Linked DNA regions of Homo sapiens: regions 1, 2, 4, 5 and 6 are each linked to region 3. The links come from fine-mapping of genetic effects on gene expression. A gene starts in region 3. Each other region holds a variant in brackets. All regions are shown on one strand. Distances are between the middles of the regions. Region 1 overlaps ADAM8 (ADAM metallopeptidase domain 8). Region 2 overlaps ECHS1 (enoyl-CoA hydratase, short chain 1). Region 3 holds the start of TUBGCP2 (tubulin gamma complex component 2). Region 4 overlaps MTG1 (mitochondrial ribosome associated GTPase 1). Region 5 overlaps ZNF511-PRAP1 (ZNF511-PRAP1 readthrough). Region 6 overlaps ZNF511-PRAP1 (ZNF511-PRAP1 readthrough).

Region 1 (4,800 bases), 46 kb before region 3:
GTGTGCACTGAGAACCAGGTGTGCACGGAGAATCAGGTCTGCAGAGAGAGCCAGGTGTGCACTGAGAACCAAGTGTGCAGAGTCAGGTGTGCGCTGCAGAGCCGGGTGTGCACTGAGAACCAGGTGTGCAGAGAGAGTCAGGTGTGCGCTGCAGAGCCGGGTGTGCACTGAGAACCAGGTGTGCAGAGAGAGTCAGGTGTGCGCTGCAGAGCCGGGTGTGCACTGAGTCAGGTGTGCAGAGAGTCAGGTGTACACTGCAGAGCCGCGTGTGCACTGAGAGCAGGTGTGCATGGAGAGCCAGGTGTCTGTTGAGAACCAGGTGTGTGCAGAGAGCCAGGTGTGCACTGCATATCTAAGTGCTCATGTGGAGTCTTGGGCTGGGCAGGTGCTGCCCAGGACCCTGGCTCTCTGGCTGTCTTCTGTGCATTTGGGGATGGGAGAAGGGGCTCGGCTCTGGCTGGAGGGCAGCCAGGCAGACTTGCCAGCCAGCACCGCCAGGTGATAAGAGCTGGTGCCCACAGGTACTCAGCAAATGTCTGCATTTTGGGGAGGGCTGGAGAAAATGAAGGCCATGCCCTCTCTGCAAGGCTCCGCACAGGCCCTGTTTCCCAGTCCTTCAGCCACAGGGTGTCCCGGCAACAAGGGTGCCAGGTCGCCTGCACCCTGACTGTCTCCTGCGGAAAGGACAGCGCCTGCTCCTTGTCCTCCAGTAGCTGCTGGACTCCGGGGTCTGGGTGCTCTGGCGCCCGGCGGCTGGGTCCCCACTACAAGGTAGACACCAGCCTTGAATCCAACTGTCGAGGAAATGGGGTGGGCGGCGGAGGCTGGGGAGATCGGGAGGAAGGGAGGTATGGGCTTGAGAGACAGGAACCCACCCTCTGCAAGTGCAGTGGCCTGTCCCCTCCAGAACGCTCTCATTCTTCGTGCTGAAGGGAGCTGGGGGCGTGGCAGGCCTGCGAGACGAATGGGCGCTATCAGCTCAGGGCTCTGCCTCGGAGGAGCCACCCGGAGGCAGCACCCATGGGTGTGGGGGCTTGGCCACAGGGGACGTCAGGCCTCCTCGGTGCAGCACCAGATGCGTCTAACAGCCTCCGCCCCGTGGGCGCCCACTCAGACTTGCTGCTCAGGTGCCTAGAGCAGAAGCCACCTCCTCAGAGGCCAGCGCGCCAGCCTGGCACCACGGGGACGCTCCCAGGGGGTGCCCAGAGGGAACGTGCGCATCGGGCGGGGTACTGCGGCGCGTGTGGGCCGTGAGCCCCGCCCTGTAGTCGGACACTGGAGTCCCGGATCCTACAGATCTGAAAGGCTGAGTCGGATGCAGCAAAGGCGAAGCGGGGTTCGCAGCCCCAGACTCTTGGGCGGGGGGGTCAGCGAGCAACCGGGAGGGGCGCCGCGGGCCATTCGCCGCTTCTCCTGGGCCGAGGGCGCAGGCCCCTGCCGCGGGGGCCCCTCGGACTCCACGACTTCGCGGACGCGCGCCCACCGCCATAGCTGAGGTCCCGGGCCAGGCGGCGCGTGGGTGGCTGAGCGGGAGCGCGTCCAGCCAGGCGTGGAGGCCGCGCGGGGCCGGGGTCGAGCCCAGCATGGCGGGGGGGGTGCGGGGCAGTGGCCCGGACAAGGGCATGGGGCCGGAAGAGGCGGGGCCGTTGCCAGGAGACGAGACGGAATGGGCGGGGCGCGGGCGGGGGCCGTTGCCGGGAGACGAGACGGAATGGGCGGGGCGCGGGCGGGGCCGTTGCCGGGAGACGAGACGGAATGGGCGGGGCGCGGGCGGGGCCGTTGCCGGGAGACGGGGCGGGGGCGGGGCCGGGCCATTGCCCGGAGACGGGGCGGGGCAGGGGTAGCGCGGGCTCCTCCGTGCATCGCGGCGAAGTCTTCTTGGGCGTGGGTTCCTGGATCGGATCGTCTGCCCGCGGGAGGGGCGGGACTGCTTAGTTACGCTGGGGAGGGCCTGAGAAATCCAGGGAGAAAAGAAGGTGGCTTGACCTCATCTATTCGCAGTCTGCATTTTACCAAGCGCCGACCCTTGTATCTCGTGAACTGAAGCCCTCCATCCTTCCCCGCTGATCTAACAAGAATCTACAGAACTCGGTCAATAATTTATTAGTAAAATATACATTTCTCATTATTAAAGAATAAAAGCTTTCAGCCCTGCTGAACACACATCTGAGGTCTCAAGAAAACCAGACAAGATAGCTGACTCTCCCACATAGCCCTTTCCATAAAGGCGATTCCTAAGCTTAAACACACACAAAGCTGGGGCTGTCCCTCTTGAATCCCATGGGAAACAGGCCCCAAGATCAGGGGACCTGGAGTCGGGAGCTTGGGGTGCAGTCTGCTCACTGACACCCTCTCGAAGAGCACGCAGGGGAACCTGGTCCTGGGATGGAGTCTTTCTGGGGATGCCCCACGTCTGTGCTGCCTGGAACCGGGTGCCCAGGGCAGCCGGCTCAGCAGGCCCCAGAGCAGGGGCAGGTGTGGCTGGGAGGGGCTGTATATGTGGCCTCCTGAACACAGCGGGAGACCAGCGGCCACCTGGAGACACGTACACACACACGCACCCGCAAGCACACAGCTCATCCCAGCCTGGTGCCTGCAGACAGCTGGGGCTACACGTGGCCAAGGCGGGGAGAAGGAATTGGCTGAGGGCGTGGACAGCAGGAGCCTCTCAGGTAGATGCATT[C/A]CTGAGGTTAGAACAGCAGCTGAGCCTGCAAAGTCAGGGTCTAGGGCTGAGCGGCACTAGCTGGACCGTGGAATGCTGGAACGCATGGCTTCTCTGCCGCAACTTCTCCAAATTTCCACACAGGCGCAGGTGCCCCCCTAGGGTGCTGTGGGAGCTCCGGCTCCTTGCTTCCTCTGGATGGGGGGCTTCAGGGCAACCTTTGGGCCAACAGCACCCTGGGAGGAGGAAAAGATAATTGATGTTGAAAAACTACCTGCTATAAAAGGTATATAAAGGGTACAACGAAATTTTACGTCCTTTAACATCTCTTAAAATGTGGATTCTTGGTTCATCCACCAACAACATGGCCCATGCACACAATGGCAGGTGTGGCAGTCACAATATATACAGCTCACAGAGGACAGACTTTCTTCCCTGCAGTTGCTGGGGGAAGGTCAGGCACCACTGACAGCCGGGGTCGGCATCTGCTGAGAAGTCCCCTGATCACAGCACAGATACCACAGTACAGCCACTGCCAATGCCTTTCCCTTTTCTTTCAGTCACCCAAGTTTATCCACAGATAATCAGAAAAAAACCCCACCCTCCAGGGCAGTGCCACCGTCAGCCCCGTGGGGAGGCCGTGCCGTCCATTGCACAGTGGACTCTGCCTGGTGTGTGCTGGGGCCTCACCTCAGCTGGACCAGGGTTGGCCGCACCAGCCCCGGGTTTGACTGGGGGCACTGGGGGTGCGAACGTTGGCTTGATGACCTGGGAGGAAACAGACACAGCTGACATGGGTCCCCCAGGCACTCCCGGCTCTAGCCTGGACATCACCTTCTCTGGACCTGGAACGAAGCTCCCCACAGACCTCGCTCTGCCCCCCAGGGAGCCTGCAGGCTCCGCCCCCACTGAGCTCGCTACAGAAAAGCCCTCCTGGCTGCCACTGCCCAGGAATAAAGCCCATCAGTGGCAGAACGCCATCCTGGGCCCACCTGCCCAGTACACCATCCACATCCCCTAACCAACCCCCATATTACCCTCCAAGAGCTTTTTTCCTTTCCTTTTTTTTTTTTTTTTTTTTTGAGTCAGGGTCTCCCTCTGTCACCCAGACTGGAGTGCAGTGGCGTGATGTTGGCTCACTGCAGCTTCCTCTTCCTGGGTTCAAGCGATCCTCCCGCCTCAGCCTCCTGAGTAGCTGGGACGACAGGCACAAGCCACCATACCCAGCTAATTTTTTATTTTTTGTAGAGACGGGGTCTCCCTATGTTGCCCAGGCTGGTCTTGAACTCCTGGGCTCAAGTGATCCTCCCGCCCCAGCCTCCCAAAGTGCTGGGATTACAGGCATGAGCCAATGCGCCTGGCCTGAAGAGCTCTACAGATTGCCGGAATGTGGGGTTTTGGAAGCTCAAAGGCCAATAATTAGCTACTAAAACACGTGTTTCTTTGCATTTCAGCTTTCCCAGGGTAGGGAGGCTGGATGTCCACCACACAGAGCTGTGGAGCTCACTCCTGGCTGTGTCACACGGAGCCTGGGTGGGCTAAGCATTTGCAGTTTTCAGCAGCTTCCAAAGGACCCTACTGAGCAGCCAGGGGAAGCCCGTGAGAGTGAAGAGTGAGTGACTTCCCTCCTGCACAGTTCTGCTGCAGCCTCTGCCCCATCTACTGCCACGCCTGTTCCTGCTGCAGCCTCAGCCCCATCTACTGCCACGCCTGTTCCTGCTGCAGCCTCTGCCCCATCTACCTCCACGCCCGGCTCTTGCTGCAGCCTCTGCCGCATCTACCTCCATGCCTGGTTCCTGCTGCAGCCTCTGCCCCACCTACCTCCACGCCCGGCTCCTGCTGCAGCCTCTGCCCCATCTACCTCCACGCCTGTTCCTGCTGCAGCCTCTGCCCCATCTACCTCCATGCCCAGCTCCTGCTGCAGCCTCTGCCCCATCTACCTCCACGCGCAGCTCCTGCTGCAGCCTCTGCCCCATCTACCTCCACGCCTGTTCCTGCTGCAGCCTCTGCCCCATCTACCTCCACGCCCGGCTCCTGCTGCAGCCTCTGCCCCATCTACCTCCACGCCCAGCTCCTGCTGCAGCCTCTGCCCCATCTACCTCCACGCCTGTTCCTGCTGCAGCCTCTGCCCCATCTAC
Region 2 (4,800 bases), 55 kb after region 3:
TGGTTCAGACCAGCCTGGGCAACACGGGGAAACCCCGTCTCTACAAAAGGTAAATTTAAACAGTCAGCTGGGTGTGGGAGTGCGCCCCTGTGGTCCCAGCTACTTGGGAGGGGGGGAGGATCACTTGAGCCCAGGAGATTCAAGCTGCAGTGAGCTGTGACTGAGCCACGCACTCCAGCCCGTCTCTAAAACACAGTGGTTAAGATGATCAAGTTGACGTCGTGTGTTCCCACAGTAGAGAAGAATGCAGTAAACTGAACAGAGAGCTCCTTATGACAGAAGTAGGAAGAAAATAGGGTGGGCTCTCGTGAGGAAAGGGCTCGACGTGAGTGGGCGTGGAAGAAAACCATAGACCATGCCTGTGCCCGTGTGCAGGGGTGTGTGGGTGCGTGCACAGAACTCTAGGAAGTCACAAGCCCAGCTGTTCACAGTGGCTACCCTGGAAGTATGATGTGAGGCAACTGACTATACAAACTTGTTTTGTTTGAATGTTGTTCCTTACAGTGAAAAAACAAAAAAGTTTAAAAAAACAACTAACATGACAGAATGCTCATTGCAGACATGACTACAAGGCGTGGTGTAATCTGAATCGCTATCACTTTAATCAGCATCTGTATGAAGGCAGCAGACAGCGTTTCCCTCAGAGCAGCCCCATTCTTCAGCGGCAGGGACACAAGGACCCGCAGGCCCCGCTTTCCGTCCGAGCACAGCATGCCCAGAGGGACCAGCGGGGGCTCCTCAGCAGAATCTTAGATTTAGAAGGTGCTCCAGTCAGGACCCTCACAGGCTGGGTGACGAAGGCTGTCATGCCGTGAGAGGTCGGGCCACGACCACGCAGCAATTGGAGAGGAACTGCACACCACGGACACTGCTCTTGAAAAGAGGATGATTTACTTGCTTCTAAAACTGACAGGCTGCACTTGTCCTCTCCAAGCAGAGGTGTGAAGCAGGGGCAGCTGGTTCTCACTGGTCTTTGAAGTTGGCCTTTCTCTTTTCCACAAACGCGGTCATCCCTTCTTTCCGGTCATCCTGGCAGGAAAAGGAACAGAAACAGAGCTGGACGCGCAGTATCCTCACAGAGCCTGATGCCAATGTCCGCCCGTCTCTCCCTGGCTCTGCCTCACTCATGCTCACAGGGGCCCAGGGGGCCGGGGAGGGGACTCAGCGGCAGGAACACCTGCCCAATCAGAGCTGGGCCTGGGCGCGGGGATTTTCACGGCCTCTCTCTACCAGTCTAGGTGACGGTCATTCAGGAGCCACTGTGTATGTCCAACAAGCTCACATCTAAAGAGCCTCAGATGCACCCATCTTGGTCACTCACCATGTCATCAACTGGATGATGGGTGGCCTGTATCAGGGGCTACTCTGTGTTGGAGTAGGACGTGAGAACTCAACTCTGCATCTGCTTTTCTTACACTGTGTGCACGTGTGTCCCCAGGTGTGCGCGCGCGCACACACACACACACACACACACACACACGCATCTGTACCCCTTCCTCAGGTGCCCAAACCACTTTTAATTTTTATTTTATAGAACAATTAAAACACCGAAGTATGACTTTCTCCCAGTGAAAGACATGAATTAAAATGGTAATCTGGCCGGGTGCAGTGGCTCACGCCTATAATCCCAGCACTGTGGGAGGCCGAGGCAGGCAGATCACTTGAGGTCAGGAGTTCAAGACCAGCCTGGCCAACATGGTGAAACTCTGTCTCTACTAAAAATACAAAAATTAGCCAGGTGTGGTGGTGGGCACCTGTAATCCCAGCTACTCGGGAGGCTGAAGCAGGAGAATCACTTGAACCCAGGAGGTGGAGGTTGCAGTGAGCTGAGATCTCACCACTGCATTCCAGCCTGGACGACCGAGCAAGACTCTGCCTCAAAGGGAAGAAAATTAAAATTATGATGGTAATTAGAGGAATTACTTTAAGTTACTGGCAGAAATCTTATAAAATATTGCTCTAAAGCTTCAGCTTATCTTATTAGAATACATTTGAGCCTATTCCAAATAATTGGAATGATCTAAAAAAACATGGGTAAAATGAGTTACATTTTTTTTTTCAGACAGAGTCTCACTCTGTCTCCCAGGCTGGAGTGCAGTGGCGTGATCTCGGCTCACTGTAATCTCCGCCTCTGGGTTCAAGCGATTCTCCTGCCTCAACTTCCAGAGTAGCTGGGATTACAGGCACCTGCCACCACGCCCGGCTAATTTTTTGGATTTTTAGTAGAGACGGGTTTCGTCATGTTGCCCAGGCTGGTTTCAAACTCCTGAGCTCAGGCAATCCACCCGCCTCAGCCTCCCAAAGTGCTGGGATTACAGGGTGAGCCACCGCGCCCGGCCTCATTTTTTAAAAAAGTCTTTTTTTTGAGACGGGGTCTTGCTTTGCTGCCCAGTTGGACTCGAA[C/T]GACCCGCCTCAGCCTCCCAGGAAGCTGGGGCTACGGATGCTCGACACCCACCCGGCTGAAACTGCATTTTCAATAAAGGAGCTGCTTGAGGGTGCAATTCACAGACCTCACATAACAGGAAAAACAAGAAAAGCCCCTGTAAGGTTTCTGTACTTTTGAACTTGTACATGCTCTACTTTTTTCCTAACATCAAGACCCACTGATGGAACCAATCTGATCCCGTTAAAGGTGAGGCTGGCAGTTCTGACCAGAAAGAAACGATACTTAATGATAAAATTTAAAAGGAAATTCCCAGCAACTTGTGTGACTGGAATTTGCTTGATTCTCCGGTTGAACACTGTTTACTCACAGTGGCAAAGGTTGAATAAAAGAGTTTCTTCTCCAACTTACTTCCTTCTGTTAATGTCATTTCAAAAGCTGAAAAACAAAGTCCCAGAGTTATGAACGGAGATATTACATGCAGAACTTTTCCTGCACGGTGACAGGAAGCCCTCCTCACTGACCCATGCACAACTGTGCTTTCGACGTGGCCCAGCCCTGCACAGGCTTCCATGGTGCCGCCCTTCTCAAAGGCACTGCCCCAGCGGAGACCTGGCAGAACCAACAGCTCTGCTATGGCCCCCAAACGTCACACTCCGGTAGCCCACGGCCCCAAGAAGGGAGAGGAACTGGATGAAAGGTGAGATGGCAAACTGTGCCCTTGAGGAGAGGCTGTGAGGCGGCAACGGGGCTGCAAACAGAGAAAAATAACCAAGGATGAAAACCAGGAAGGACAGCACGAGAGCCAGAGCTGGGCGCGGCCGGCACCAAGAACGCCTTTGGCTCTGCTCATTCCAGGCCCGTTCTTTGCACGAGGCCAAGCAGAGCAGATCCAGGTGCGCAGATGGAGGCAGGCGCTGTGGCTCCAGGGCTGGTGCCAGCATCCTCTCCCAGGGGAGCACGACCTTGCCAAACACCTCGGGCGACAGCAGCCTCCGTTCTTTCAAAATGCTCTCCTCACTGTATCCTGCCTCAAGCCAACGGCAAGCCCGGGGGACGGCCACACCCTCGAGATAAATGCACTCAGAGAGGTTAGGGGACCTGCCTGGGGCCACCCACACCTGTCCGGACTCAACCAGCTAATAACCATCTCATTCCACATGCTGAGAATAAATTGTGACATTAAAACTTGAGCATTTCTGAGGAGGGGGAGGTTCAGATCCACTTCCCTGGCAGAGGGAGAACTAAAAGGGATCCAGGCCAAGAACGAACAGCGTGGTGCTGGGCTGCAAGCCTGCGTAGCCACCTGCCAGGCGCACACGCAGCCGCCAACCCCAGGTCTCGGGAGGTGAACCGAGCCTCCCCATGGCAGAGACCATTTTACATTTGGGACCTCTGCTCCCTTCTCAGCCTTTCCCTGCCACTGCCAGCTCTGTACTGCCCTCACCTCCCAGGCCTGGCTCAGTTCTTGGGCCCTGGTACAAAGGGGAGCTGGGAACATCTCAGCGGAGTTCCTGAGTGCGTGACCAGAAACCACGACTCTACAGACAGCAGAACTGAGACACTGAGAAGCATTTCTGCCCAGGAGGGCTTAAGGCATATTCATTTGGAGCCAGAAAGCCTGCTGCTGAGGAATGCTCCTGACAGCCACGGAGACCTCTCCAGTGTCTTCCTGGCAGATCCCCTACCTGCATTCACTGATTCTTTGGCCATCGCTACTACAATTTTAGAATTGCTGGCAATTTTTTCTGCACACTGGATGGCTTCTTCCACCAGTGTCTCAACAGGACAAATCTTGCTGACAAGACCTGAAACACAAGAAAGTCAGTGAGTGATGTGCAGAAACAGCACTTGTCTATCCCTTCTCGAGTGAGTGGCCGCTGGGGAGCAGCGTGGCTGGAGCACCCCAGCCTCTGGACGCTAAGCAAGGGCGGCTTCCACACGGGAAGTGCCGCACGTGCCCCTTCCTGAGTGCTGAGTGATCTCGGCACTGCGGTCACTGTGCTCTCAGACATGTGGGCCAGGCTGGCCACAGCTCCGACGGCAGAGGCGGCCAGACACGGGGACTGTGATCACCAACAGGGCAGTGGGAGGACCGGCCACTGAGGCCTGGAGATGCCCATTGCTTACACTGCATTTTGGGGACGCAATTGCTGGGCTGTTATTCTGTACCAGATACTTACGTGTGGTTCACTTCCGTACATACAGTACTTCAAAATGTAGAAACAAAAGGCAGTCAGTCTTCTCCCAGGTCCTCAGGACCCAAAAGCTCATGCAACCACCGTGGGGGCACTTGGATGCTGCCCGGGGTTTCTGTGGGGCTCCCACGAGGGGGACACCTGGATGCCGCCCTGGGTTTCTGTGGGGCTCCCCCATGGGGGACACCTGGATGCAGCTCTGGGTTTCTGTGGGGCTCC
Region 3 (4,800 bases):
GAGGTCAGGAGATCGAGACCATCCTGGCTAACATGGTGAAACCCCATCTCTACTAAAAATACAAAAAAATTAGCCGGGGGTGGTGGCGGGCGCTTGTAGTCGCAGATACTCCAGAGGCTGGGGCAGGAGAATGGCATGAACCCGAGAGGCGGAGCTTGCAGTGAGCCAAGATCACACCACTGCATTCCAGCCTGGGCAACAGAGCGAGACTCTGTCTCAAAAAATAATAATAAAAAAAATAAAAACTACCTTCAGGAAACTTCGTATCTCTTCTAGAAATAGAAGCACAGATGCCCGCACGTCATGAGTGTTCATCCCATGAGGAGCCTGCTGCTCTCCCTGAATGTGGGGACCGGGCCTCCAAGAGGGCAGCCCGTACTCGCACAGAGTCCCTCCCCCCAGAAGACCTTTGGAAAAGTCCTAGGGCAACTCTGGGGTGTCACGGTCATGGAAGGGTGCTCTCGCTACTTAGAGGGCAAGGGCGGGGGATGCTAATCATCAACAGAGCTGTCCCGCCAGAAATGCACAGCGTCCCACTGAAAACACAGCTCTGAGGAACATCTAGCCGTGGCTGCTTCTTGGAGGAACGTCTAGCCATGGCCGCTGACTTGGCCTTCTTGATGCTCCTGAATTCTTACTATTAATCACACAAACTGACAGGCCCAGCAACTGTGACTGGGAGGGACTGACGTCCTCCTCACAGAGGCTGTGAGCTACCGCAGGGACGCGTGCTGAGGGAAGCAATGCACGCATGTCACACTCCACCACGGACAAGCGGGGCACACACTCCTAGTGAGCACACACTCCAAGTGATTAAAACACAGAGGGACGTGAAAAAGAGTCTCTGTTGAGAGCTCAAAGCTAACTGTACAAATTGGTTTGAAAAATGTTATTTTACAACTTGTGGAAAATGTCAAGAGCCCAAAGGCTTTTACAGAGACAGAAAGTACAGTCATGCATCACTCAACATTCTGAGAAATGCCTGGCCAACATGGTGAAAACCAGTCTCTACCAAAAATACAAAAATTGGCCAAGCCTGGTGGCGCACACTTGTAATCCCAGCTACTTGGGAAGCTGAGGCACGAGAATCGCTTGAACCCAGCAGGCAGAGGTTGCAGTGAGCCCAGATCGCGCCACTGCACTCCAGCCTGAGCGACAGAGAGAGACACTATCTCCAAAAGAAAAAAAGAGAAACGTATGGTTACATGATTTCCTTCTGTGCGATCATCAGAGTCACTCGCAGACCTGGATGGTGTACGGCCTACAATGCACCTAAACCACCTAGAGGAGCCTCTTGCTCGTGGGCTACAAACCTGCCCAGCAGGTGGCGGTGCTGAACACTAGACAACTGTAACACAGAGATATTTGTGTATCTAAACATGGAAAAAGTACAGGGGCAGGCATGGTGGCTCACGCCTGCAGTTACAGCTCTTTGGAACGCTGAGGCAGCAGGACCACTTGAGCCCAAGAATTTGAGGCCGCAGCGATCTATCAGCTATGATCGCACCATTGCACTCCAGCCTGGGTGACAGACGAGAAAGCTAAAGCCTCTATCCGCCACTGGGCCCATTCTCTGCAGTAGATCTGAAGCGTCCACTGCTTCCCGCGTGTGTTGTCATTCACCATTTTAATTAGGTGACTCTTTACTCTGACGTCTGTCTCTCCTACAAGGCTGCCGCGCCCTCCTGTGATGCCTTCCCCCACACGCCCTGAGCACCTAGCACAGGTCCTGTGTTTCACGGGAGCTGCGGGGACTGGAGAGGTCGACAGGACCCCGACAAACCAGGAAAGGGCCTTTGAACTAAAGTAACGGGAAGTCACCCAAGGGCTTTAAATTAAAAACGGTTACAATAAAACTGGAGTCACTTTGGCTCCAGTTCGCGACTGGTTTAGAGGGAACAAGATCCAGGGACTGCAGCGGGAGACGACAGGCGGGGCAAGGCGGACGGGAGAGGGCGTGCGAGAGGGGGACCTGCGACCCGGCTTCCCAGGGCTGGGAGGGGACACCCGGGACGACCCGGAGGCCCGCTCCGCCCCGCCCCGGCTGAGTGTCGGGCCGCGGGGCAAGACGCTGGCCTGGCCGGTGCAGGCCCGAAGGGCTTCGGCCCCAGAGTTCGGGGACCGCTGCACAGCCAGAGGGAGCGCGCGGGAAGAGCCGCGTCCCGCCAGCCCCGTCGCCTCGTGGGCCCCCCCGGGCCTGGCAGTCCCCCAACCCCCTCATCACGCCCGCGCCCGCGTTCGGCCAGGACTCACCGCAGTCCCGGAGCCACAGCCCCCGCGCAGCCCCCGACGGCGGCGGAAGTGAGCGTGACGTCACGTCCGGCTCGGCTCGCGGACGGTGGCCGACAGGCTGCGCCCGCCCGCGCCCGGGGTGATGCAGTTGCCCCCCGCGCTGTGCGCCCGCCTCGCTGCGGGGCCCGGGGCGGCGGAGCCGCTGCCTGTAGAGCGGGATCCCGCGGCTGGGGCCGCGCCCTTTCGCTTCGTTGCGCGCCCCGTGCGCTTCCCGCGGGAGCACCAGTTCTTCGAGGTGCGTGAGCAAAAGAGGGAAAAAGTAGTTGTAGGATCCAGTGGGGCCTACGGCGGCGAGGCGGGGCCGGAGCCTGGAGTGGGAGGGGCCTACGACTGCGGGGCGGGGCCGGAGCCTGGGACAGGCGGGACCTGAGGTGGTGGGGCGGGGCCGGAACGTGGAGTGGGCGGGGCCTGAGGCTGTGGGGCGGGACCGGAGCGCGGGATGACTGGGGCCACGGGTGTGGGCGAGGCCTGACGCGGTGGGCGTGCCGCGAGTCACCTGGCCCCGCCCACGGCGCACTTTTCCTGCAGGATGGGGACGTGCAGCGCCACCTCTACCTCCAGGACGTGATCATGCAGGTGGCCGACGTGCCTGAGAAGCCCAGGTAAGCGAATGGGCAGTGCCTAGCCAGTGCTACTCCTGCGCCGCCTCCCTGACCGGTGCCTGGTCCCTGGGGCTGTGCTGCCGCTCTTCCATGTGCGGCCGCCCCACCGAGGCGCTGTGCCTGTCCAGCTTTGGCGTGGCCGACTCTTCCACCACCTAGCCTGTTTGTGAAACTTAATTCATAAAAAGAGGGTTTGGGATTGCAAAAGATGCATAGGGGCTTTATTGGACGTCTCAAAGGGAAACTGTGCAGAAAGTCCAGCTTGGTTCCTCGCACCGGAGGAAGGGCTCCTGAAGCACGTCTCCTTGGCAGGGTGCCCGCGTTTGCCTGCCAGGTGGCCGGCTGCTGCCAGGTGTTCGATGCCCTGGACGACTACGAGCACCACTACCACACGCTGCACGGAAATGTTTGCTCCTTTTGCAAGCGGGCCTTCCCTTCCGGACACCTGCTGGACGCCCACATCCTGGAGTGGCACGATTCGCTCTTCCAGATCCTGTCTGAGAGGCAGGACATGGTGGGTGACAACTGCACAGCCGCCGAGGCCACCCCCCATTGGTGATGGGCTCAGAGTGCTGCCCCCAGCTCTCGGGTGCTCGGGCAAGGCCGGGGACACCTTTCCGCCCTTGGCAGCTCTGCTACGGGGGCATGGCGGTGGGGGAGGGCCAGGGGTCAGAGGGAGGTGACACGGTCTCCATTTCAGTATCAGTGCTTGGTAGAAGGCTGCACAGAGAAGTTCAAGACCAGCAGAGACCGGAAGGATCACATGGTGAGGATGCACCTGTACCCCGCGGACTTCCGGTTTGATAAGCCAAAGAAAAGCAGAAGGTAGGGAGCCGCCAGGCTCAGCACGTGTCTGCTTTTGATTTTAGGAAAAGGTTTCCAACTAGCCGGAATGCATAGACGGTCAGACTTATTAAGCACTTGTGTGTCACCTAATGGGGTGTTCACCTGCAGGTACCTGAAGCCCTGGCAACACAGCTACAGGTGGTTGTGCCAGCGGCCACCCTGCCGAAGGGAGGCTGGAGGGGAGCCCCTGGCTGCCCAGCTCTGTGCCGGTGGAGGCAGCAGAGGGGGTGTGGGAATGAGCGGGCGCAGCGCCTCCGCACTCACACCCCTCTGGGCCATGCCTGTACCTCCTGCAGCAGTCGGCCGTGGTCATCCGCACTCACACCCCTCGGGGCCGTGTCTGTACCTCCTGCAGCCGTCGGCCGTGCTCACACATCATGCAGCCCTGGCTTTCCTTTTGTCCTGGTTGGTTGTGCGCATATGAACTTGATGACAAAGCTGTTGATTAACATGTTCCTGCCTAGAGTGCACTCTGGGAAATACTTCCAGGAACAATCTTTTTTTTTTTTTGAGACAGGGTCTTGCTCTGACACCCAGGCTGGAGTGTAGTGGTGTGATGTAGGTTCACTGCAACCTCCACTTCTCAGGCTCAAGCGATTCTCCCACTTCAGCCTCCTAAAGTGCTAGGACTACCAACACGCATCGCCGCACTCGGCAAAATTTTCTATTTTTTGTAGAGACAGGGTCTTGCTATGTTGCCCAGTCTGGTCGTGAACTCCTGGGCTCAAGCCGTCCATCTGCCTCAGCCTCCCAAAGTGCTGAGATTGTAGGTATGAGCTACCATGTCCAGCCGGAACAATTTTTAAATTGTGTTATATTTCTTCTTTTTTTAACTGATGAGGTGAACTTTCATAATCATCTACAATTTTATTGATCAGAGTTTTTCAGACTCTACATTTTCTCAAGTAGTAATTTGCTCTTTAAAATAAAAGAACTGGGAGAACCCACTGCAATGTGGGAGGCTTTACAAAGACTTACGTGTAAAGTAATTGTCTCCTTTCCGAGGGATCATTTTAAGGAGAAAAACCGTGCAATGCTGGATTAAGACATTCGTATTATG
Region 4 (4,396 bases), 96 kb after region 3:
AAATCAAGGAAACGAGCGTTCCCGTCACCCCCCATCCCTGCTCCTCCTTCGTGAAATCAAGGAAACGAGCGTTCCCGTCACCCCCAGTCCCTGCTCCTCCTTCGTGAAATCAAGGAAACGAGCGTTCCCGTCACCCCCAGTCCCTGCTCCTCCTTCGTGAAATCAAGGAAACGAGCGTTCCCGTCACCCCCAGTCCCTGCTCCTCCTTCGTGAAATCAAGGAAACGAGCGTTCCCGTCACCCCCAGTCCCTGCTCCTCCTTCGTGAAATCAAGGAAACGAGCGTTCCCGTCACCCCCAGTCCCTGCTCCTCCTTCGTGAAATCAAGGAAATGAGCGTTCCCGTCACCCCCAGTCCCTGCTCCTCCTTCGTGAAATCAAGGAAATGAGCGTTCCCGTCACCCCCAGTCCCTGTGCTCCTTCGTGATCACACCTTCCTGCCCCTCCCTGAGCCCAGGCAGCCGTCTACTGTCCCTGTAGGTTGCTTTGGGTTTTCTAGAATTCCACGTAGATGGAATCACACAGGATGTGCATTCTTGTTGATCTGTCACTCGGCACGATTGTTGTGTGATCCCCGTGTGTCGTCGTGTGTTGTCCGTCATTCATCCTTTTTGTTGCCAGGCGGTTTCAGTGTCCAGGTGCGCTGCAGTCTGTCCCTTCACCCGTTGATGGATATGTGGGTTGTTTGCAGGTTTTGGCTATTGCAGATAAAGCTGCTGTGAACATTCATGTACCGACAGGTCTTTGTGTAGATCCGGGCTTTCGTTTCCCTTGGGTTAATACCTAGGAGTAGAGTGGCTGGATCATAGGGGAGGCATATGTTTGAGTTTTTAAGAAACCGCCACATTGTTTTCCAAGGTAGTTACACTGTTTTATATGCTGGCAAGCAGGGAATGAGTCCTTCAGTTTCTCTAAGATCAGTCTTTAACTTTGGCCTGTCTGATGGGCGGGCGTGTAGGGGTGTCGCATAGCATTTCAATTTGCATTTCCCTGATGACAGGGACGTTGAGCATCTTCATGTGCTTATTTGTCATCCCTCTCTGGGGAAATGTCTGTTCAAATCCTTTTCCCTTTTTTTTTTTTTAACTGAGTTGTTTCTTTCCTTATTGCTAAGTTTTAATCTTTTTTTTTTTTTTTTTTTTGAGACAGGGTCTCAGTTACCCAGGCTGAAGTGCAGTGGTACAGTCTCAGCTCACTGCAGCCTGACCTCCTGGGCTCAAGCGATCCTCCCACTTCAGCCTCCCAAGTAGCTGAGACTACAGGCGTGTGCCACCACACATAGCTGATTTTTGTATTTTTTGTAGAGACAGGGTTTCCCCATGTTGCCCAGGCTGGTCTTGAACTCCTGGGCTCAAGGGATCTGCCCGCCTCAGCCTCCCAAAGCATTAGGATTATAGGCATGAGGCACCATGCCCAGCCTGTAACCTTTTTCTAATATATTCTGGATACAAGTCCTTAATCAGAGATACGGTTTGTAAATACTTTAAGTCTGTGCCTTGTCTTTTCAGCCCTCTTAACAGTGTTTTCCGAGGAGTAGAATTGTTAATTTTCATGCAGTCCAGTTTATCAGCTAGATCTTTTCCAGAGTACTCTTGTTGTCATATCTAAGAAATCTTTGCTTAAACCAGGGTCACAAGGGTTTCCTCATTGAAGATAGATGGTTTTAGGTTTTACATTTAGGGCTATGATCCTTTCTGATTTTTTGGTATATGGTACAAGCTGCAGATTGAAGTTCTTTTTTTTTTGCACATGGAGAACCAGTTGTTCCGGAAACATTTGTTGCAAAGACTGTCTTTTCTCCACTGAATTGTCTTTGCATCTTTGTCGCAAATCGGTTGTCCATATACGTGGGTCTGTTTGTGGACTCTAACTGTGTCACTTTTCTGTGTGACCGACCGTCTTGGTAACTGCTTCTAATTTAATATGAGATTTGAAATCAGGCAGTGCTGGTAGCCCCCACTCTTCTTTGTCAAAATTGCTTTGTCTTTTCCTGGTTCTTTGTATTCTCATGCATTTTTCAGTCACTTTGTCAGTTTCTACAAAAATCCCTATGTTTCTTGAGGCCGGGTGGCAGATTCCCCTGAATTTATAGGTCAGTCTGGGGAAGAATTGACAATATTGTAACACTGAGTCTCTGACCCGTGAATATAGTGTATCTCTTCATTTATTTAGGTCTTTAGTTTTTCTTTGCAGTGTTTTGTAGTTTACAGTGTTTTGTAAGATTTATATTGAACTCTTTTTTAAACTTTTAATGCTAAGATTTATCTTTTGATACAAAGTAGATGTTTTCAGGGTACCTATGATATTTTGATGCATTCATACAATGTGTAATGATCAGATCAGGGTAATTGGGATATCCATCATCCCAAACATTTATCTTCATGCTGGAAACATTTGAATTGCTCTCTTCTGGTATTTGAAATATCCTGTAGATTCCTGTTAACTGAAGTCACTCTACCGAACTATTCATTAATCAACCTCTGTCCATCCCCTCTTCCCCTCACCTCTGGTAATCACCAGTCTGCTCTCTGTCTTAATGAAGTCCACGTTTTTAGCTCCCACATTTGAGTTAGAACATGCATTATTTGTCTTTCTGTGCCTGTTTATTTCACTTAACAGAATGATCTCCAGTTCTGTTTGTATTACTGCAAATGACAAGATTTCGTCCTTTGTTATGGCT[A/G]ATATTTCATTGTGTTTTATGTACCACATTTTCTGTATCCATCATCCTTTGATGGACACTTAGGTAGATTGCATATCTTGGCTATTGTGAGTAGTGCTGCCGTGAGCATGGGAGTGCAGTATTTCTTCAGTATATTGATTTCCATTCTTTTGGGTCTATACCCAGTAGTGGGATTGCTGGATCCTATGGCAGTTCTATTTGTAGTGTTTTGAAGAACCTCCATACTGTTTTCCATAGTAGCTGTACTAACTTACATTCCCACCAACAGTGTACGACAGCTCCCCTTTCTCTACATCCTCAACAGCATCTGCTATTCTCTGTGTTTTTTAATAAAAGCCATTTTAACTAGGGTGAGATGAAATCTCATTGTGGTTTTGATTTGCATTTCTCTGGTGATTAGTCATGTTGAGCATTTTTTCATACACTTGTTGGCCATTTGTATGTCTTCTTTTGAGAAATAATTATTCAGATCTTCTGTCCATTTTTAAATAGTTATGTGGTTTTTTTTGCTGTTGAGTTGAATTGCTTATATAATCTGGTTATTAATTCCTTGTTGAGTAGTTTGCAGATATTTTCTCCTATTCTGTAGATTATCTTGTCAGTGCTTTGATAGTTTCGTTTCTTGCTTCGGGTCTTGCCGTGCCGTCCAGGCTGAGTGCAGTGGTGCGATCACAGCTCACTGCAGCCTCGAACTCTTGGGCTCAAGAGATCCTCCTGCCTCAGCCTCCCAAGTAGCTGGGATTATAGGCACGTACCACCATGCCTGGCTTGCTGATTGTTTCCTTTGCTGTGCAGAAGCTTTTCAGCTTGATGTAAATTTTTTTACATTTGCCTATTATTATTATTATTATTTTTGCTTTTGTTGCCTGTGCTTTTGAGGTCTTATACAAAAAAAATCTGGCCCAGACCAATTTCCAGAAGCGTTTCCCTTACGTTTTCTTCTAGCAGTTTTGAAGTTTCAGGTCTTAGATTTAAGTCTTTTTTTTTTTTTTTTTTGAGAAGGAGTCTCACTGTGTCACCCAGGCTGGAGTGCAGTGGCACGATCTCGGCTCGCTGCAACCCCTGCTTCCTGGGTTCAAGCAGTTCTCTGCCTCAGCCTCCCAAGTAGCTGGGACTACAGGTGCCCGCCACCATACCTGGCTAAGTTTTGTATTTTTAGTAGAGATGGGGTTTCACCATCTTGGCCAGGCTGGTCTTGAACTCCTGACCTCGTGATCCACCTGCCTTGGCCTGTAATAGCCACCGCACCCGGCCAGATTTAAGTCTTTAATCCCTTTTGATTTGGTTTTGTATATTGTGAGAGATGGGGTCTAGTTTCATTCTGCCTGTGGTTATCCAGTTTAACCAGCACCCTTTTATGGGAGAGACTGTCCTTTCCCCAGTGTATGTTCTTGGCACTTTTGTCGAAAATGAGTTGGCTGTAAATGTGTGGATGTATTTCTGGGTTCTCTGGTCTGTTCCACTGTTCTGTGTATGTGTTTTATGCCAGTAGCGTGCTGTTTTTGGTTACTACGAATATTTTGAAGTCAGGTAGTGTGATGCCTCTAGCTTTGTTCTTTTTGCTTCAGGTTTGCTTTGGCTGTTTGGGGCCTTTAGTGGTGCCATACAAATTTTAGGATTGTTTTTCTATTTCTTTGCAGAGTGTCATTGCTATTTTGATAACGATTGCATTAAATCTGTAAATTGCTTTGGGTGGTGACATTTTAACAGTATTCTTCT
Region 5 (4,800 bases), 34 kb after region 3:
CCTTGGTCTGGGGCCCCCCCCAGAGTCTCCAGGTGGACCTTGGGTGGATGCTCAGACTCCCCCGTCCCCTCCGCCTTTGTGCTGGGTCAGACCCAGCTGGGTTTGGCTCTCACTCACCCTGAGGATGGCCCTGGCGCCCGCATGGTGCCCAGCACACAGAAGGCGCTCCATAGGCATTTGCCTGAGTGCGGCTCCCAGCTGTGGGTGGTCAGCAATGACAGGAGCATGCGTTGGTGATGCCTTCGTTTTCATTGCTAAACCGTAACCCATTGTTCCCGCTGTTAACTCATGGACATGCCGCGTTTCATCCACGCTGAACGGTAACCCGTTGTTACTACTGTCTTTTTGTTTTGTTTTGTTTTGTTTTTTTGAGACGGAGTCTCGGTCTGTCGCCCAGGCTGGAGGGCAGTGGCGCAATCTTGGCTCACTGCAAGCCCTGCCTCCCGGGTTCGAGCCATTCTCCTGCCTCAGCCTCCCGAGTAGCTGGGACTACAGGCGCCCGCCACCAAGCCCGGCTAAATTATTTTTTGTATTTTTAGTAGAGACGGGGTTTCACCATGTTAGCCAGGATGGTCTCGATCTCCTGACCTCGTGATCCGCCTGCCTCGGCCTCCCAAAGTGCTGAGATTACAGGCGTGAGCCACTGCGCCCGACCTGTTTTGTTTTAGTTTAGTTTTGTTTTTTTAAGAGGAGTTTTGCTCTTGTTGCCCAGGCTGGAGGGCAATGGAACGTTCTCGGCTCACCGCAACCTCTGCCTCCGGGGTTCAAGCGATTCTCCTGCCTGAGCCTCCTGAGTAGCTGAGATTATAGGCGTGTGCCACCACGCCTAGCTAATTTTTGTATTTTTAGTAGAGACAGGGTTTCACCATATTGGCCAGGCTGGTCTCAAACTCCTGACCTCAGGTGATCCGCCTGCCTTGGCCTCCCAAAGTGCTGTGATTACAGGCGTGAGCCACCACGCCCGGCCATTATTGCTGTTAACCCATGGATTCTCCAGGTTTCATCCATTCATCCGTATGAACTGTTTCCAGTTTGTCAGCTGTTTATAATGTTGTGGTGAACATTCTTATCACAACCTTGGTGGACGTGTGCTTTTCTTTCTCTTGGGTAGTTACTGAAGAGTGGAATTGCCAAATTTGATGGAAAGTTGACATTTAACTTTGAAAGAAAATGCTAAAATGTGTTTTTCCAAAGTGGCCGTACCATGTGACATTCCCACCAGCAGTATAGGAGGGTTCCAGTTTCTCCACATCCTCACCACCTCTTGATTTTTTTTTTTTTTTGAGACAGTCTCCCTCTGGCCAGGCTGGAGTACAGTGGCACGATCTTGGCTCATTGCAACCTCCACCTCCCGGGTTCAAACGATTCTCCTGCCTCAGGCACCCAAGTAGCTGGGACTATAGGCTCATGCCACCACGCCTGGCTAATTTTTGTATTTTTAGTAAAGATGGGGTTTCACCATGTTGGCCAGGATGGTCTCAACCCGCCTCGGCCTCCTAAAGTGCTGGGATGACAGGCGTGAGCCACCGTGCCCAGCAACCAACTCTTGATCCTTGATTTTGTCTTTTTTATACTAGCCATCTGTCTTAGCTGAGGCTGCCATAACAAATTGCCAGAGACTGGGCAGCTTCAACAATGGAAATTCATGTTCTCACAGCGATGGAGGCTGACGTCTGAGACGGAGCTGTCGGCAGGGTTGGAGCTGTTGGCAGGGTTGGCTCCTCCTGAGGCTGCTCCCTGGGTTTGTGGGTGGCCACACCTCCCCGTGTCCTTACATGGTCTTCCCTTTGGCGTATCTGTGTGTTCTCATCTCTTCTTATAAGGACACCAGTCCTGTTGAATTAGGGTCCACCCTAATAACCTTGCTTTACCTTACTTACATCTTTAAAAACCCATCTCCAAATATCGTCATATTCTGAGGGGTTAGGACATCAATGTATGAATTTAGAGGGGACACAGCCCATAACACCGTCCTATAGGAGTGTAGCTGTGGCTTGAGTCCACGTCGCCCTAGTGACAAGTGGTGCTGAACATCTTCTCAGGGTGGAGTCACCATTTGTAAATCATCTATGGTGAAATGTCTGTGCAAATGTTTTGAATATTTTTCAGTTGGGTTGTTTGTCTTTTTATTGTTGAGTTGTAAGAGTTCTTTTTATATTCTGGGTATAAGTCCTTTTCTTTCTTTTTTTTAGTTTTATTATTATTTTTTTGAGATGGAGTCTCACTCTGTCAACCAGGCTGGAGTGCAGTGGTGCAGTCTCATCTCACTGCAACCTCCGCCTCCCGGGTTCAAGCGATTCTCCTGCCTCAGCCTCCCTAGTAGCTGGGACTATAGGCGCCTGCCACCACACCCAGCCAATTTTTGTATTCTTAGT[A/G]GAAACGGGGTTTCGCTATTTTGGCCAGGGTGGTCTCGAACTCCTGACCGCGAGTGATCCTCCCGCCTCGGCTTCCCAAAGCGCTGGAATTACAGGCGTGAGCCACTGCACCTGGCCCTTTATTTTTAATTTTTAAAAAGTTTTAATTATTATGGGTACATAATAGGTATATATATCCATGGGGTACACGGATGCCATATGTAATGATCAAACCAGGATAATTGGGGTATCCATAACCCCAAGATTGTATCATTTCTTTGTGCTAACATTCTAATTCCACTCTTTTTTGTTAATTTAAAATATACAACAGGCTAGTCACAGTGGCTCATGCCTGTGGTCCCAGCACTTTGGGAGGCCTGAGTGGGAGGATTGCTTGAGCCCAGGAGTTCGAGACGAGCCTGGGGACCTCGTCTCATTTTACTAAAGACTAGATGTTTTAGATAATATATTGCAAACATTTTGAGTTCTGATATTTTCTCCCAAGGGTTGTTGTTGCTGTTTTGTTGAAATCTGTGGACTTTGTTTCCCCTGTAGCACGTGGCCTGGTGTCTCCGCCCAGTTTTTTAAGCCTATCTTCCTTGAGTCACACTGGGTTGTGTGGTTGGAGGCTGTGCTCAGGCCGCGGGACCCACTCTGCTGGTGCCTCAAGGGTGGGCTGGGGGCCACGCTCTGTGTGGATGCAGTTTTTAAGGTGCCCGACCTTTACTTCCCACCGGCTGTCTCCCGTCTCCTGAGTGTGAATGCACAGACTTGTGTTGGGCCAGAGGAATGGGGAGGTCAGCTGGGACTGTGTGGGAACCTGGGGAGGCTCCCTGTGCCTTTCTCATTCCAGACCTGATCACCCCATTCAAGTTCGGGCTGGCCTGCCAATCACTGCTCATAATCCCCTTGGGGACCCCAGTTCCCTGAGCCACTGGCCTTCTGCTGCCTCCCCCGTGGAGCCACTCGGCCACTGAGGGGTGGGTGGGAGTGTAGCTGCCCAACAGGCTCATTCTGCTTGCTGCCCAGAGAGAGCCGATTTATCAGGGCAGAGAGAAACTGCAACACGGAAAGTTTAATTCACGCGGAGCCGGCTGAACGGGAGGCTGGAGCTTTATCACTACTCAAATTTTAAAGGATAATTTGGTGGGTAGGGGTTGGGAAGCAGGGAGTGCTGATCGGTTGGGTTGCAGATGAAATCACAGGGAGTCGAATCTGTCCTCTTGTGCTGAGTCACTTCCTGAGTGGGGGCCACAAGACCAGGTGAGCCAGTTCATGGATCTGGGTGGCACCAGCTGTTCCACCAAGTTCAGAGTCCGAAAAATGTCTCGAGCACCAATCTTAGGATTTACAATAGTGATGTTTTCCCTAAGAATAATTGGGGAGGCTTAGAATCTTGTGGCCTCCAGCTGCCTGACTCCTTTTTTTTTTTTTTTTTTTTTTTTTGAGACGGAGTCTCGCTCTGTCACCCAGGCTGGAGTGCAATGGCGTGATCTCTGCTCACTGCAAGCTCCGCCTCCCAGGTTCAGGCCATTCTCCTGCCTCAGCCTCCCGAATAGCTGGGACTACAGGCGCCTGCAACCACGTCCGGCTAATTTTTTGTATTTTTAGTAGAGACGGGGTTTCACCATGTTAGCCAGGATGGTCTTGATCTCCTGACCTCGTGATCCGCCTGCCTCGGCCTCCCAAAGTGCTGGGATTACAGGCGTGAGCCACCGCGCCCGGTCCTGCCTGACACCTAAAACATAATTTCTTTTTTATTTTTCATGAAAGCCACTGACTTTCTTGATCTAAAAAACTTTACAAGGACAGTGACTGTTCTGCCAAAAAAGGAGCCAAATAGTATCAAATGGACTGAAAGTGAGGGTGGAGGTGAGGGACGGGGCCAGGAATCCATTCAGGAAAGCTGGTAACTGTCACCAGGGAAAGTGAAAAAGGAAGGGGGAGACATGCAAGAGTGAGAGTCCAAAAAAGTTGAAATGGTTAGGGGAGAAAACTCCCAAAAGACCCAGAGTGCGTCAGACGTGAGTATGACAATAGCAATCTTCTCCTTTGTAGAGGACAGGGGAGGAGTCCCGACTCGGCTACAAACTCTGGGTGAGGGCTGGGGATTGAGAGCTTCCTGGAGAGCATCACAAGAAGGCATCGCATGCTCTCGAAGGCATCCGAAGTCCCGGGACTGCTTGGTGTTGGCACCACGAGTCCTTTGGCCATTCCCGGAACAGGTCTTCATCTTTCCTCAGCACCAGAAACTGGCCAAGGACAACATAGGCCTTGTCAAAGCCCCTTTCCTCCAGCTTCTTGCCCAGGACTTCACCAATCCTGGCCAGGCTCCCCACTAGCTTTTCCCCCATGGGCTCTGCCCTGAAGTCTCGGTGCTTTTGGGAGGTTGGCATCTTGATCAGGCTTAATCGGCAACTTCAGTTCCCGTAACGGTTCCTCCCGC
Region 6 (4,800 bases), 23 kb after region 3:
TGGGAGAGGGCGGGCCCCACTAACCCAGAGAAGCCGAGGGTGCCCGGCTTCGCCTTCAGGCGGACCTTCTAGAGAAAAGGAATGCAGCGGATGACCTCCGAGCTGATGGATGGAAAAAGCAGAAAAAGAAAATGTATTCAATCAATCAAAGGAGAAAAGAAAGGTCCTGTGTGCAGTAGACACGGAACCTGTGGCCCGGTGCTATGGCGGCGCCTGTGGTCCCAGCCACTCGGGAGGCTGAGGCGGGAGAATCGCTTGAACCCGGGAGGCGGAGGTTGCAATGAGCCGAGATCACGCCACTGCACTCCAGCCTAGGTGACAGAACGAAACTCTGCCAAAAAAAAAAAAAAAAAAAAAAAAAGGCAGGGCGCGGTGGCTCACGCCTGTAATCCCAGCACTTTGGGAGGCCGAGGCGGGCGGGTCACGAGGTCAGGAGATCGAGACCATTCTGGCTAACACGGTGAAACCCCGTCTCTACTAAAAAATACAAAAAATTAGCCGGGCGCGGTGGCGGGCGCCTGTAGTCCCAGCTACTTGGGAGGCTGAGGCAGGAGAATGGCGTGAACCTGGGAGGCGGAGCTTGCAGTGAGCCGAGATCGCGCCACCGCACTCCAGCCTGGGTGACAGAGAGAGACTCCGTCTCAAAAAAAAAAAAAAAAGGAATCTGTCATTACAACCTTCTCTCACAAAGAACTCCAGGCGCAGACAGCATCACCACAGCATTCTACCAACCATTTACAGGGAAAGTAATGCACGTCCACAAAACTCTTCCAGAAAGACAAGGGAGCACTCACCAGCTCCTGAGGCCAACGTAGCCTCAGTCCCTAACCCAGCAAGGACAGCAGCGGAGAGGAGCTCACAGGCCAGCCCCCGCCACACGTACACACCACTGCGAGGCCCCAAAGCTCAAGCAGCGTGAATCCAGCGAATACAACAAGGTAACATATCATGACAGTTTGGGTGTATTCTGGAAATGAAGTTTGGCTTAACATTTGACAAGCAATCATATTTTTCACCATATTAACAGAATAATGAAAAAGCGTTATCTGATCAATTGCTAGAGGAGCAGAAGTAACTCTGGGTAAGACTCAGGGCTCATTTACTATTCCTCGGACCCATTAGTGCATTAAGGCAGGAGGCGAGTGCTGTAACCCGGTAACAGTGAACCACTAAATCCCCACAGCAAACCTCACTGAATGTGAATCCTGAAAGTGCCTCGATCTGCGGTTCTACAAGTTATGGTGCTGGAGGTCTCAGCCAATGCTGTAGGGCAGGACAAAGAAAGAGCTCCAGTGCCAGACAAGAAAAAGTAAAACTCTGATTGATTCACCCATGAAACAGTGTCTGTGTTTAGAAACCCCAAAAGAATATATAGACAAATCATAAGGATCAAAAAGTGAGTTTGGCAAGGTTGTTGGATTTAAGGTATTCAGAAATCAGTTACATTCCTATATGTCAGTGGCAAAAATAAATAAATAAATAATTTATTGAAGTACTCAATTTAAATAATATCAAAACTATCAAATCCTCAGGAATAGGTGTAAAAAGAGCTGAGGAGCAGGGACAGGGCAGGGCCTTCACATGGAATCCAGGAAACACTGTCGACAGAGACCAAGAAAAGCTAAATTCCCCAAGTAAATGGGGAAGGCTGTGGCTATGGATTTTGGGAGTTTCTATGTTTAAACAAATTACCCACCCCCCAATCTGTAGATGCAGTAAATCTTAAGCAAAATCCCAACAGGGTTTTTAAAATGAACTTGACAAGCACTGTCATTTTATATGGAAGGCAGAGGGGCAGGAACACATCAAGTATCTTGGAAAAGAACATGGATTGCCAGGCACAGTGGCTCACGCCTGTAGTCCCAACACTTTGGGAGGCAGAAGTGGGTGGATCACAAGATCAGGAGTTTGAGACCAGCCTGGCCAACATGGTGAAACCCTGTCTCGACTAAAAATACAAAAACTAGCCGGGCATGGTGGTACACGCCTATAATCCCAGAATCTCGGGAGGCTGAGGCAGGAGAATCCCTTGAACCTGGGAGGCAGAGGTTGCAGCGAGCTGAGATTGCACTACCACACTCCAGCCTGGGCAACAAGAGCAAAACTCCGTCTGGGAAAAAAAAAAAAAAGAACATGGAGGAGGTCTCATCTGCCAGGGTCTAGCTTGTTGCACAGCATTGGAAATGGAGAGGTGTGGGGCTACTGCGTGGTGGAAAAAGTCCCACGTGACACACTTTGCACACACAGACCCTGATTTGCAGCATGGCTGCCTCTCAGTAAACCGCTGTCCACATCAAGAGCAATGAGCCTGATCCCTACCTCACATTACACAGAGAAGTCTACTCCAGGTGGATAAACCTAAACTGGAAAAGCAAAACAATAAAGCATCTCAAAGATAATACAGAAGAAGATTTTTCTGGTCTCAGGGAGGGAAATGTTTCTTCATTAGGACAATAGGTACTAACCATAAAAGGAAATATTGATAAAATGACTTCATTAAAACTATGAACTTCTGCTTATCAAAACAGCCTTCAAAAAATGGAAGCAGAAACCAAGACTGGGAGAAGACAGTTGCAACCCACAAATGATGAGGGTGCATTGTGGGTTGAATGATGTTCCCTCAAAAATACATCCAAGTCCTAGGATCTGAGTGAGGGGTGCCTTTGAATGGGATCTTATTTGAAAATAGGGTCTTTGCAGATGTAATCAAGCTAAAATAAA[C/T]TCGTCCTGAATCAGCGTGGGCCTTGACCCAAAACTGGTATCGTTATTAAAACAGGGAAATTAGACATAGGAGAGTGTTATGTGTAGACGGAGCAGAGATTGGAACGATGCAGCTGAAACCCAAGGATTGCTTGGGCCACCAGAAGCTGGAGGAAGCAAGGAAAAAGCTCCCCTAGAGGCTTTGGAGGGAGCATGGCCCCGTGAACACCTTCATTTTGGACTTCTTGACTCCAGAACTGTGAAAGAATTTGTTATTTTAAGCCACCTGCTTGTAATTTGTGACAGCAGCGCGAGGATGTCCAATTAACTGCCAGAGCCAGCAGTGACCAGTCTTTCTCGCCCTGCAGTGGCCAGGCTCCGCTGTGGGTTCCAGGTGTGGGTAGGCACCACGGGAACAGGAGCAAGGGACCCGCGGTCACAGAGCTTCTGCCCAGCTGCTGCCACTCAAGTACAGATAATGTGGAGGCATCTGCGTGGAGGAGAATCTAAGGGTGGAAGGAGCTGAGGGTGGAATGATTGCAAGGTGGAAGGATCCGAGGGAGAAGGATTGAGGGGGTGGGGGGGGGGGAAGGATCCGAGGGGTGAGGGATCCAAGGACAGAGGGACCCAACGGGGAAGGATTGCGCGGGTGGGGGTGGGGTGGAGGGGAGGGATCCGAGCGGAGGGGTCCGAGGGTGGAACGATCTGAAGGGAAGGGACCCCAACGGGGTGCGGGGAGGGATCCGAAGGGGTAAGGATATGACGCGGGGGGAAGGATCCGACGCAGGGGGAGGGATCCGAGGGTGGAAGGATCTGAGGGGGGAAGAATCCGACTTGGGGAACGATCCAAGTGGGGTAGGATCCCAGGTGGGAAGGGTCGGAGAGCGGAGGTATCTGAGAGGGAGGGCTCTGAGGGGGAAAGATCTGAGAGTGGAAGGCTCTGAGGCGGAAAGATCTGAGAGTGGAAGGCTCTGAGGGGGAAAGAAAGATCTGAGAGTGGAAGGCTCTGAGGGGGAAAGATCTGAGAGTGGAAGGCTCTGAGGGGGGAAGGATCTGAGGGGGGAAGGCTCTGAGGGGGGAAGGATCTGAGGGGGGAAGGCTCTGAGGGGGGAAGGATCTGAGGGGGGAAGGCTCTGAGGGGGGAAGGATCTGAGGGGGGAAGGCTCTGAGGGGGGAAGGCTCTGAAGGGGAAGCTCTGAGGGGGGAAGGATCTGAGCGGGGAAGGCTCTGAGGGGGGAAGGCTCTGAAGGGGAGGCTCTGAGGGGGGAAGGACATGAGGGGGAAGGATCTGAAAGGCGAAGGATCTGAGGGGGGAAGGATCTGAGCGGGGAAGGCTCTGAGGGGGGAAGGCTCTGAGGGGGGAAGGACATGAGGGGGAAGGATCTGAGGGGCGAAGGATCTGAGGGGGGAAGGCTCTGAGGGGGGAAGGCTCTGAAGGGGAAGCTCTGAGGGGGGAAGGACATGAGGGGGAAGGATCTGAAAGGCGAAGGATCTGAGGGGGGAAGGATCTGAGCGGGGAAGGCTCTGAGGGGGGAAGGCTCTGAGGGGGGAAGGACATGAGGGGGAAGGATCTGAAAGGCGAAGGATCTGAGGGGGGAAGGATCTGAGCGGGGAAGGCTCTGAGGGGGGAAGGCTCTGAGGGGGGAAGGCTCTGAGGGGGGAAGGACATGAGGGGGAAGGATCTGAAAGGCGAAGGATCTGAGGGGGGAAGGATCTGAGCGGGGAAGGCTCTGAGGGGGGAAGACTCTGAAGGGGAGGCTCTGAAGGGGAAGGACATGAGGGGAAGGATCTGAGGGGCGAAGGATCTGAGCGGGGAAGGCTCTGAGGGGGGAAGGCTCTGAGGGGGAGGCTCTGAGGGGGAAGGACATGAGGGAGAAGGATCTGAGGGGCGAAGGATCTGAAGGGGGAAGGATCAGGGGAGGAAGGATTTGGAGGTGGCAGCTTCTGCGTGGGGAAAGAACTGAGGGGGAAGGATCTGCGTGGGCGAGAGTGCGGCCGGTGAACGAGGGCTGGGTAGGGGATGGGGGAGGCCACTCTGAGCCGGAAGGAGCTAGGCGAGGGGAGACAGGGCCCCCAGTCCTGGACCTGGCCACGCGCTTT

The links.
Region 1: its variant is fine-mapped to the expression of TUBGCP2 in whole blood (TOPMed, PIP above 0.99).
Region 2: its variant is fine-mapped to the expression of TUBGCP2 in whole blood (TOPMed, PIP 0.93).
Region 4: its variant is fine-mapped to the expression of TUBGCP2 in whole blood (TOPMed, PIP 0.96).
Region 5: its variant is fine-mapped to the expression of TUBGCP2 in whole blood (INTERVAL, PIP 0.98).
Region 6: its variant is fine-mapped to the expression of TUBGCP2 in whole blood (TOPMed, PIP 0.97).

The regions. Positions count from the first base shown.
Region 1 is chr10:133,260,336-133,265,135 of GRCh38, forward strand. It overlaps ADAM8 (ADAM metallopeptidase domain 8), which reads right to left. Exons shown (of 23, transcript NM_001109.5): 22 at 3,353-3,430; 23 at 2,088-2,898. The coding sequence ends at 2,821. Among named protein-coding and RNA genes, the nearest start is that of ADAM8, 14 kb to the right of the region's middle. RefSeq lists a silencer at 1,343-1,672 and an enhancer at 1,989-2,965. The variant C/A (reference allele first, on the strand shown) is at 2,684.
Region 2 is chr10:133,361,905-133,366,704 of GRCh38, forward strand. ECHS1 (enoyl-CoA hydratase, short chain 1) reads right to left here. Exons shown (of 8, transcript NM_004092.4): 6 at 4,072-4,191; 7 at 2,754-2,821; 8 at 581-1,029. The coding sequence ends at 964. Among named protein-coding and RNA genes, the nearest start is that of FUOM, 6.3 kb to the left of the region's middle. The variant C/T (reference allele first, on the strand shown) is at 2,404.
Region 3 is chr10:133,306,570-133,311,369 of GRCh38, forward strand. It overlaps TUBGCP2 (tubulin gamma complex component 2), which reads right to left and starts at 2,303. Exons shown (of 18, transcript NM_006659.4): 1 at 2,254-2,303. It overlaps ZNF511-PRAP1 (ZNF511-PRAP1 readthrough), which reads left to right and starts at 2,345. Exons shown (of 9, transcript NM_001396060.1): 1 at 2,345-2,527; 2 at 2,821-2,894; 3 at 3,207-3,408; 4 at 3,595-3,719. The coding sequence starts at 2,375. It overlaps ZNF511 (zinc finger protein 511), which reads left to right and starts at 2,345. Exons shown (of 6, transcript NM_145806.4): 1 at 2,345-2,527; 2 at 2,821-2,894; 3 at 3,207-3,408; 4 at 3,595-3,719. The coding sequence starts at 2,375. RefSeq lists enhancers at 1,480-1,709, 2,433-3,128, 2,536-2,830 and a silencer at 1,940-2,789.
Region 4 is chr10:133,403,011-133,407,406 of GRCh38, forward strand. All of the region lies in intron 9 of MTG1 (mitochondrial ribosome associated GTPase 1), which reads left to right. Among named protein-coding and RNA genes, the nearest start is that of MTG1, 11 kb to the left of the region's middle. The variant A/G (reference allele first, on the strand shown) is at 2,678.
Region 5 is chr10:133,340,157-133,344,956 of GRCh38, forward strand. All of the region lies in intron 5 of ZNF511-PRAP1 (ZNF511-PRAP1 readthrough), which reads left to right. It also overlaps the pseudogene BANF1P2. Among named protein-coding and RNA genes, the nearest start is that of PRAP1, 4.8 kb to the right of the region's middle. The variant A/G (reference allele first, on the strand shown) is at 2,376.
Region 6 is chr10:133,330,015-133,334,814 of GRCh38, forward strand. The region is part of intron 5 of ZNF511-PRAP1 (ZNF511-PRAP1 readthrough); the gene reads left to right. All of the region lies in intron 1 of CALY (calcyon neuron specific vesicular protein), which reads right to left. Among named protein-coding and RNA genes, the nearest start is that of CALY, 4.5 kb to the right of the region's middle. RefSeq lists an enhancer at 132-211. The variant C/T (reference allele first, on the strand shown) is at 2,722.